2 separate regions of the Homo sapiens genome follow, and region 1 is linked to region 2. A link means that fine-mapping ties the variant in region 2 to the plasma level of a protein whose gene starts in the linked region. Region 2 holds a variant in brackets. A gene starts in the other region. All regions are shown on their reverse strands. Region 1 holds the start of PDGFRA (platelet derived growth factor receptor alpha). Region 2 has its middle 23 kb from the start of FCGR3A.

Evidence for each region. PIP is the chance, under the fine-mapping model, that this variant and not a neighbour inherited with it causes the effect. Protein levels are from antibody-based Olink assays in UK Biobank. Linkage for the fine-mapping came from a reference panel and not from the study's own genotypes, which makes the PIPs less certain.
Region 1: it holds the start of PDGFRA, and the variant in region 2 is fine-mapped to the plasma level of the PDGFRA protein (UK Biobank, PIP above 0.99).

What each region holds. Positions count from the first base shown.
Region 1 is chr4:54,224,170-54,229,499 of GRCh38, reverse strand. PDGFRA (platelet derived growth factor receptor alpha) reads right to left here and starts at 207. Exons shown (of 23, transcript NM_006206.6): 1 at 85-207. RefSeq lists enhancers at 909-1,734, 2,563-3,388, 3,389-4,216 and a silencer at 2,857-3,044.
Region 2 is chr1:161,570,313-161,575,686 of GRCh38, reverse strand. No RefSeq gene overlaps it. Among named protein-coding and RNA genes, the nearest start is that of FCGR3A, 23 kb to the right of the region's middle. The variant T/C (reference allele first, on the strand shown) is at 3,242.

The DNA of each region.
Region 1 (5,330 bases), not on the chromosome of region 2:
TGAAGTTACTTCGCTTTCTCCAGTCCCAGAGTCTGATCAGGGACTTCCCTTATAAACAAAAAATCATTTTTTCTTTTCCCTTACCTTCTCCTCCGATGTTATTCCGCAATGAATGTCCCACACATGGAGTAAAGAGCGTGCCCACGGCCTCCAATGATCTCTTGCAGTCTCCTCCTCTGTTTCTCTCCCTGTAGCTCCAACAGTAATGGGCTCAAAAACCGCGTTTTGTAATTGATTCAATGTTATAGTCCATCCTTCTAAAACTAATCATTTGCTCTAAGTAAATAGCTGTCAGGAAATAAGCCCCCCCTCAACCTTGGTCTCTTCAAAATAAAAGTTTCTCTCAAACTCCCTGCGCTCCGAATCTCCCAGTGTCCAGATTGCGCCTTCGCTTTTTGCTCTTACGCAATCAGGGGGTCCAGTCCCAACCCCCAGACTTCGACAACAACTGGGGGGCGGGGAGAAGCAGACCAGATGGGATGGGGGGTGGTGGAAGGGGGAGGTGTTGGTGCTCTGCCGGGAAAGAGGTTTTGTGAAACTACAAACAGCCCATCATTTCCAGAATGAGTTTGCCTCCCCATTTTGGGGTTATTTTCTTAGACTGCTATAGTTTTGTATTCTCTTTGAAAAGAAGAAAAGGAACATACAAAATTGCATTTAATACCCAGAGAGAATATAAATCTAGAATCAAGAAATGTCCCTTCTACAAACTCGGCCCAACGAGAAATAGGGCCCTCGGGAGAAATCTCCAAGCGGTTGCGCCGTTTTGAACTAGGGGTCTTTTAGGGGAAGGGCTATATAGTTGCTAGTTATTTAATAGGATTGGGCAAACTGTTGAGTCCAATATGACAATGATGGGTTTTTGTTTTGTGTGGTGTGTGTGTGTGTACAAGACTGGGTGGTCTGAAATACGGTACAAAGAAAAGAGGGTCTGTGTAGGTTTGGAACGTTCTCCGATAGAACGACCTTTACTCCCTTGAAGTCACTTATCTGGTCGTGCCTTTGTTTTCGGGGTTATCTGGGCGAGGTTGCCCTGGCTTCTATCTCGCATACAAAAAAAGCTCAAGCTTGGGCGTTTGAGGAATCGTACCACCGCCTCCGCGTCGTGGGGGAGGATGCCTTTTGATTCTCCCTCCGTTCCCTCCCGCCGCGTGGGTCGAACCCTACGAATTCCTTGGAATTGACAGCTGAGCCCCAAACCCTGCGCCCAAGGCGAGAGGCCAGTGTCGGGAGGAAACGATCCTGCCGGCGAGGGAAAGGGGGCGCTGATGCTCCAGGAACCAGACCTGGGCAGAGTGGGGCTTCCCAGCGACAGCGGGGGAGGGGAGCGCGTTCACCTTCATCGCTCTCTGATTTTTGAATTCTCCTGTTGGGGTTGGGGGTCATCCTTCATCCTTCTCCCTCAACCCCACCCCAACACACGCACTCTGAAAATGGCCAAAGTGGCCAGGTTGGGACTGGCATGTCCAACAGCCGTCTCCTCCTTCACCAGGAGGGTGGACACAGTGCAGTGGACAGGGGAGAGTCACAGAGAAGTACTCCAACGGGCGCGGTGCTGTGCCTAACCAGGACAGGATCTTGGGATGTCAGCCTCGAAAACAGGGCGCCTGGGGCTGCGCTGGGGGTCCCATTGCCGCAGTTCTTCTACGCGACCCGCTCTCGTGCATCTTCAGCTTGGGTGACTGCACCGCTCGCTATTACTTCCACATGTCCCTTCAGGAAATCATTGAAGGCAAATATATGAACAGCCCCTTGTTCGGAATGCTAACAGGATACCGTAATGTTTGTAGAAAATGAGCGGGAACAAACGATCCCCCCAAAAATCAGAGTGCGGAATAAAAGGCAAAAGCGGGTGCTGGGCCACATGCTGTTAAGTTGAGAACCGGGTTTTTAGGCTAGTTGCCCCAGAGGGTAGGAGGCGAGACAGACAGCCTACCCAGAGGGGCTGCTTTGCTTCGGCGACACTGTTAGTCCGGTCAAGCCAGGGTCTTCCGTCCGCAGGGCCCCAGCGCTCTCCGCCCACAAATGGTAACTTCACAGTTCATTTCAGAGCCGTTTAATGGGGCCCGAGAAGCAGTCCGGGCGGGAGTGTCTCCAGGCAGCGACTCCTCGGGAGTTTAAAGCAGAAAGCAATGGATGAGCAAGCGAGCACCCAGTTGTCCTTCTGGTAGTAATTACCTGCCTAATTTGAATGATGCCTTTGTTATGATCATTAACAAACATTTGCTAAAGGTTTCCATGTGTGACATTCTGGAAGGTTTAAAGGCCTGAGGAGCTGACTCCAGGGATAGTGCCCCGGTGGGGGGTGGCGCAAGAAAGCAAATGGTTGGGGGAAAATTTTGCGGAGAGACTGTGCAAAGAAGAGAGGTCAACATCTGCCTCCTCTGCAAAAGCAAAATAAACCCAGTGGTCAGGAGCAACCTCCGGACAGGAGGCCCTCGAACCGAGGCGGTTGGTTCCTTAAACCGAGTCCTGCCCCCACAGCCCCCGCCCCTACCACTGCTCATAGGCGGGTTTGAATCCTGTTTTCCGCCTTCTAAGGCTGGTCCGAGGCTGGTTCGGGAGAAGTCGGGTCTGCGCCCGGCAGTCAGTCCGGGGCGTCGGGGGAAGGTGGGGCTAGTTCTTGCCGCGCTCTCCCAGTGTCGTTCTAAGATCCTTCGAGATCGGTCCCACGACGCCCCGGGTCCTGGGTGGTCCCGGAGCCGCAGGGGGCTAGAAACCTTGCCCTCCTGAGGCGGGCTGCGGGTCTTTTCTCCCCTTCTTGTGCTTCTCACTGGGCACCGTGTGGGGGGTGGGGGGAGGGGACCAGGCCACCATATGTACCCGGAGGAGAGGAGCGACATGCACTGGCCTGGGCAGCTCTGCGCAGATCTCAACCCGCGCCCGGATTCTAATTTTCAACCTCTTGGGGTTTTTTGTTTTGTTTTTTCCTTGAGGGATTATCAAGGGGTTAAGAATGTGGGTTTTCTCCCCAAAGTGGGAGTCGGGGAGGCTGCGAGCCGAGAGGAAGGAGGCCCAACTCCCGAATTGAGCCGGGCCGAGAAGTTGGGAGAAAAGGGTAGGGACTGTGACAGTTCTGTCCTCCGCCTTGCGCGTCTAGGCCAGCAGGCGACATGAAATTGAGGGCAAGGGTATAAAAAGGTGCAGTCGATTAGCTGACTTTCAAAAAGAAGGCCTCGTAAACTTTTTACAACCAGATCAAAATGGTCACTAAAAACAAAAGCAAAATCTCGCCGTGCCCTGCCCTGCCTCCAGGGCCCGTTCTCCTGGCCCCGACTCCCGGGCGAGGGCGGCCACAGCTCCGAGCGCCACACCTTTGGCTTTGAGGGCGCTTCCCACTGAGTTGGCTTTTTGTGTCTTCTCCTCCTCTGCCCCCCAGCTCCACCGCCAATTCTACTTTCCTTGAAGAATTCAGGTCCGTTTGCCCTAGAAGCCGTACGAATTTAACAGTTATCAAAGCCGTTAGTTGTGAAAATCACGTTTAAACTTGTGAATTCTTTTTTTCAAATGGTGATGGGCGGGGCAAGGGAACGGGGGATGTTTCTGGCTTCACAATTTGAAAATGAAGGGCCCGTTTGGTGGTTTGCAAAAGAAAACGGTGCTAACTGCTCCTTCTCCCACCCCCTTTAACCCTTGGCTGCATCTGGAATAGCCGCCTCCCTGGGTCCAGCGAGGAAGGGTCCTTTGCCCGGAGGTGGTGGAGGTGACGCACAGATGTGGGGGGTCCCCGCAGACAGAGAGACGCCCTGGCCTCTGGTCTGCCCCAGCTGAGGCTCGGAAGCTAGCTCTAAGGAGTCTCTTTGCACGCTCAGAATTCAGAACGGCACTAGTCCTGGAAAAGGAGGAATTCTCTAAAAAGATCGAGATGGGTCTGTGCAGCTTGAGGTGAAAGTTCCCTCCCCAGGACTCCGCACCCACCTTGCTGGCTGGATCTCAAGGTGCAGCCTCTCTTCTGGGTTTGGGGGGCTTGCTCTTCAGGAAGTAGAAGCAGAGGGTTCCTAACAACGCAGCCTGTTTACAGACCTGAGGACAAGAGCTTGTTTCCTGGTCCAGCCCAGCCCGGTGGGCCATACACTCCTTAGAGCCTGGGACAGACTGGTAGGACTGGAACCCTCTGGATCTGGCTTTTGGATACCCCCTCCCTCGCTAGAGAGCCCCCTTCCTCAGTTTAGGGATGTTGTTGTGCCTCTGCCCTCTCCTGCTCCTTAGGTCTTTGGTTTTAGTTGCTTTTAATTTGAAAAACCATATGAGGGGAGGGGGAAGGAACGAGGAGATTGGGAGGTCTGCTCTTTATTAGGGGCCCAGGCCTCTAGCTTTCCAACACACAGCTGTGGCTGGGAGGGGAAGGAGGGCTGGCTCTGTGTAGGTCAGCCTCACTGAAGAGAGGGACTTGTCCTCTGGAAGTCCCAGGAGTCCAGCACAGCCCTGTGATTTTTTTTTTTTTAATCCTTCAGCAGAGACACTGCAGTGGAAAACCAGTGGAACCTCGACTCTTTGCTCATCCATTAAAAGGGGCATAATCGACTAGGCATGGTGGCTGATGCCTGTAATCCTAACACTTTAGGAGGCCAAGGTGGGAGGAACACCTGAGCCCAGGAGTTTAAGACCAGCCTGGGCAACATAGTGAGCCCCCATCTCTATTTAAAATAACAGTAATGACCATTGGAATAATCATGCACAACGTATAGGGTTGTCTTGGGGATTAAGTAAGATAATATCCCAGGTAAATAAAGCGGTTCATATGCAAACTTAAGATGTACAAGGCCATGTGTCAAGGGCTAAGGATACAGCCCTTTCCTCCTAGATTTTATGGACTAGTGGAGCAATCAATTAGACATAAAGTTGCAACTTAGCGTTCTAAGCAATGTTGGAGAGAGACAATGAAGTCAGCACACAGGAGGAGCCTAACCCAATCTGGGAGATGGGAGACGGCTTCTTTCAGGGAAGGCTTCTCTGAGAATCTAAGAGGAATAAGAATCTAGTTGGGGAGGAACCTCATTGCATGGGCGGGGAGGTGAGAGAGAACATGAGATAATCAGAAGTGAAAGGAGTTTGGAATGGCCACAACTTGTAAAGGTCCGGAGCGGAAGGAGCAAAAAAGAGGTGAGATGGAGCTCATGGAGGCCTTCTAGACCATGTTAAATGTCTAGGCTTGCAGAGATGGGAGGATCGATGGAAGGTTCCAGGCCAGAAGTTCAAAACCAGAATGGACAACATAGTGAGACTCCATCTCTACAAAAAATTTAAAAATTGACCAGATGTGGTGGTGCACACCTGTATTCCCAGCTACTCAGGAGGCTGAAGCAGGAGGAATGCATGAGCCCAAGAGT
Region 2 (5,374 bases):
CAGAAGAGAGTTGAGATCTTAGGTAACCCCTGGGCAGGCTCATCTCTGGGGCAACACACAGAAGGGTGAGGACAAAGAGATAGCTTACTGTAAGTGCCACCCTAAAAAGGTGCTAGCCAGGAAGGAAGATGTAAGCCATCCCCTGGAGAGAAAGCAGAAGGGTCGAGAACCGGAAATGTCCATTAATCAGGTATCCAAAGAAGAAGGACTGATGTGTGAGGAGTCAGAAGCAGAAGGGAGGGTGCCGGGTCCAGGGCCAGTTTGAAACAAATCGTGTCAGCCAGGCATGGTGGCTCACGCCTGTAATCCCAACACTTTGGGAGGCTGAGGCAGCCAGATCACTTGAAGTCAGGAGTTCGAGACCAGTCTGACCAGCATAGTAAAACCCCATCTCTACTAAAAATGTAAAAATTAGCCAGCTGTGGTGTCACACACCTGTAATCGCAGCTACTTGGGAGGCTGAGGCAGGAGAATTGCTTGAACCCAGGAGGTGGAGGTTGCAGTGAGCCAAGATCATGCCACTGCACTCCAGCCTGGGCAGCAAAGCAAGACTCTGTCAAAAAAGAAAAAAGAAAAAAGAAAAAAGAAACAAATCTTGCCACCATCAAGTTCCCATCATCCATTTCTCTTTGTGCATTTATTGGCAGATTGATAAGGCAGGACAGATCCTAAAAGTGATTGGAATGTAAATAAAGGAGATCTCTGCCTCTACTAAATAAATACACAATAAAAATTAAAAGGAGATCTCCTCTGACCAAGGTATTTCAGTAAAGTTGCAAATATGAAGGTAAGTATTGCTGCTGGTTGAGTAGTCTTATGGAAAAGCCCTTCAATCGGGTCGCGGTTTATCGTTCTAGAAACTGGGAAAAGTATTTTGTACGAGAGGACAGTGGAGGTTCCTGCTCAGCATCTGTTCTTTCCTGTGGCCTCCAGTCTCAGTAGAGACCCTAGGAGAAGAGTTTACTGTGACTGGAGCAGAAGAGCAGGCTGCAGTTAACTTGGTCCCTGGCAGAATTACAGAAGTAAAATGAGGTCTTCAGGAATCACTGGAGGGAAATGATACTGAGAGTGGCAATAGCAACAAATTCTGAGCAGGAAAGCAATAACTCATGGGGATCAACTAGTGACTGATTTACTCAACCCATATGCAGTGCTCTAACCCAATGTTGACTCTGCTAGGTAAGAAAGATGGGGTGGGGATGGATGGGAGGAAGAAATGAAGAAATGAGAAGAACAGTGGTCTCTGTCCTGAGGAACCCTCATTACAATGGGAAAGATAGGATATTTGCAGGAGACAGATATAAAAACAATACAAACCTATCCTGTGCTTCACCTGAATTAGAGCAGAAAGTCGTAGAATTAAAAATTGAGGCTGGGCACGATGCCTGATGCCTGTAATCCCAGCACTTTGGGAGGCCGAGGCAGGTGGATCACCTCAGCTCAGGAGTTTGAGACCAGCCTGGCAAACATGGTGAAACCCCATCTCTACTAAAAATACAAAAAATTAGCCAGGGGTTGTGGCACGTGCCTGTAATCCCAACTATTTGGAAGGCTGAGACAGGAGAATTGCTTGAACCCGGGAGGTGGAGGTTGTAGTGAGCCGAGATCACGCCATTGCACTCCTGCCTGGGTGACAGAGTAAGCGACTCAGTCTCAAAATAAATAAATAAATAAATAAATAAAAATTGAGGAAAAGTGTGAGTGTTAGAAGAAACAATTGATTATAGAGCCAAAATATCTAATCAGAAAGATTGTGATTTCAGACATATCTGCATAATCTCTCTTCTTTACCTCCTCCCCCTGTAGCCCACTATCACCCTGCATTGACAGCCAAGAGCTGAGAGCCCCCGGAGCTGATCAGATTTCACTAGCAATCACAGCACACAACTTGGATGAGTGGCAATATGCTTTCCTCTAGAATGTGAAGGTGGAAGGCCCAAGAATCGAGCTTGGAGTGATAGTCCTGGCAGTAGGTCTCCCCTACTTGGCCTCCCATAGGCTTTTCCAACCACCCAGCATGATCGGTCCCTGTCCCCTGTCCAACAGCTGAGAATATGGTCAGAAAAGAGCCCTCCAATTTGAAGGGTAGTTCTGAATATTAAGGTACTTCTGAATAGTAAGAAGTAATAACATAAATATATGAAGAATATAGTAGCTCAGAGAAACAGGCTTGCACCATGAAGGGTTAGGACAGTCATAAAATGGAAATCATGTTTATATGAGAAACAACATAGCCTCAAGGGAAACAAAAGCCAGTATCAGGCTTTGGTGAAAACTTAGAACAAGGAGAGATTGTAAACTAACCAGACGTGTGAAGAGCAAATAGCAGAGCCTACCTACATAGCACAACTCCTGCCTGCATGGCCATCAGGACACAGTCAGTGCCGACCTCAAGGACACTTTTGATGATAACTTTTAAAACATACCATTTTACTTTCTGCTTTTTAGATTATCAAGTCATGTGAGAAACAGATAACTTCATCTAATTTCTGTGCTTAAATTCATTATGCCCTGCCATTCTGGTGATTTTTCATTTTGGACTTGGCCATTTTGATTTGTGGTATAAAAACAGCTGTGAAAACCAGCCTCATTAAAATGTTTTCATTAGAAACACCCCCCCAAAAAAACCTGTATTAATTAGAAACACCTGAAAAAAAACAGATAATACACAAAGTGATAACTTTTCTTGAACCCGTCAGAGTGCTGAGGTAGTGAGGCAACCAAGTACCCTGAAATCTAAGAAAAGACAGGTGTTTCTAAAGAGGGCTAGGATATGAGCACAGGCTCACCTGTAAGACAGCGTGGAAGGAAGGCAGGGCTACCATTCAAATGGGTTAGAAGAATTCAGCTAAAATTTTTAATAAATCGCTGAAAGCCAGATGTGGCCAAGAACTGAGAGCTCATGATACAAGGGCCATTCCTACGCATTTGAAGCATCTTCATGGGCCTCCACCAGAGCTCATGAAAAGCTTGTGGCCAGGGAATACATACCTAGGTAATGGAGCAGCCATCATTCTGGGAAAGGCATGAAGCCCACCTGAATCCTTTTTTCTAAGGAACAAATGTCTTAAATCACTAGAATAAGGGCCCAGGGCACAGAGCAGAGGAAAAGAGCCCATTACACCTGGAGGAAAGGAACAGGAAAAAACAACAACAACAACAACAACAAAAAACAACTCTCTACCCTTGGGGAAGGGGCTGGAAACCATCCCAAGCCTAGATGATTACAGGTCTTCTACCA[T/C]TGAGTGAGATCTAGGATCACTGAAAAAGCCCTATCCTCAAGATCCAGGGACAGAAGGCCCGACTAAAACTGAGGCGGGACTAGAACAGCTGTCACAGCCCCACACGTTCTTCTTAGCCACTGCCCTGAAAAAATCAACAAGAACAGCGGCTATTGCAGCAAAGAAAGAGTTTAATAATCACAGGGCCAGCCATGTGAAGAGAGCAAGCAGCAATTTCTCAAACACATCTCCCTGACAATTCAGAGACTAGGGTTTTTCATGGGTACTTTGGTGGGCAGGAGGCTTGGAAACTGGAACAATCGATTGGCTGGGGATGAAATTACAGGGGTGTCTAAAGCTGTCTTCACGCAGCCAAGTCAGTTCCCAGGAGTGGGTGGATCTCAGGACCTAGTGGCGTCTCTTGGTCTACTGAAATGTTGAATCTGAAAAATACCTCGAAGACTCGTTCTTCAGGGTTCACAATAGTGATGTTATCTATAGGAGTAGTTGGGGAAGTTATAAATTTTGCAATCCCCGGTTACGTGACTCTGGTGCAGTAAGCAACATGCTACTGTAAGGACACATGGAAAGCAAGGAAGTGAGGAAGACACACTAAGCAATGGCAGGTCATTGTTTAACTGAGTCTATTCTTCAGCAAAGTTAAAGTCCCTACCGTATTTTAACCTTGTCTTATGAATGCAGTTTCAATCTTGAACAAGGAGGGAGTTCAGTTTCCCTTGACTCAAAGTTTAACTATAAACGTCACTCATAGCTATTTTGACCTCCATGCTAGAATAAGAAAAAAAAAACTCGCCTGTGGGTTAGAAGCAGGATGGAGTCAGTCATGTTAGATTTCTCTCTTTATTCGTTTATTTTTTATTTTTATTTATTTATTTATTTATTTATTGAGATGGAGTCTTGCTCTGTCACCCAGGCTGGAGTGCAGTGGTGGGATCTTGGCTCACTGCAAACTCTGCCTCCCTGGTTCAAGCAATTCTCCACCTGCCTCAGCCTCCCAAGTAACTGGGATTACAGGCGCCTGCCGCCACTCCCAGCTAATTTTGTAGTTTTAGTAGAGACTGGATTTCACCATCTTGGCCAGGCTGGTCTCGAACTTCTGACCTCAGGTGATCCACCTGCCTCAGCTTCCCAAAGTGCTGGGATTACAAACATGAGCCACCACGCCCAGCCAGATTTCTCTCCTTATTTATATATATATATTCTGCAAAGGCAATTTCACAATGGATAAATCTCTGCCCTACCTCCCAGGCTAGCAAGTACTGAATAAGAAGCAAAAGTACTCTGCCACTGAAGAGAGAATCTCTGAGGTGCAGGCACATACTTTAGAAAGTCCTAAAGTTGGGGTAGTGCAGGAAAATTGAGAAAATACCATCCAGGAGTACCGGCGGCTCTTGGTCTACTGAAATGCTGCCTCCACCCAAGCACAAGATAACACTAGAAGAATTTGAAGGTAACTATGGCAATAATAAAACCCGAACCCAGCTCAACTCTTGACTAGATTGGCCCACACTAAGAGCTTACCAGAATAAGACGGGTTCTCATTTCTAATCATAAATGCAATTTACCTCAGTTCCTACTGTCCCACATATAATGTCCAGAATTCAATAAAAACAATGAGCCAACACAGAAAAGCAAGGTTTAAAAATCCTGTCAACAGACAATGCAAGCAATAGAAACTGCTAAAAGATGATTCAGATGTTGGTACTATCAAATAGGGAATTTTAAAATCAAACCATTAATTACAACCATATTTAACATGTTAAAGGCTCTAGTGGAAAAGGTAGACAACATACATAAACAGATGGGGAATTTCAGCAGAAAGATAGAAACTATACGAAGAGTCAAATGGAAATATTAGCAAATTTTGAAACAGAGTAAAAGAGAAGAAGAATGTATTAGGCAGGGTCATCAGTAGATGCCATACAGCTGAGAAAAAAAAAATCAGTACTTTGAAAATGGGTTCATAGAAATTACCCAAACTGAAATTCAAGGAATAAAAAAAAAGAAAATAGAACAGAACACCCAAGAACTGTGGGACAATGTAAACTGGCCTAACATATATGTAATTGAAATCCCAGAGAATAGAGAAAGAATGGGAGAGAGGAAACATTTAAAGAGAAAATGGCCAACAA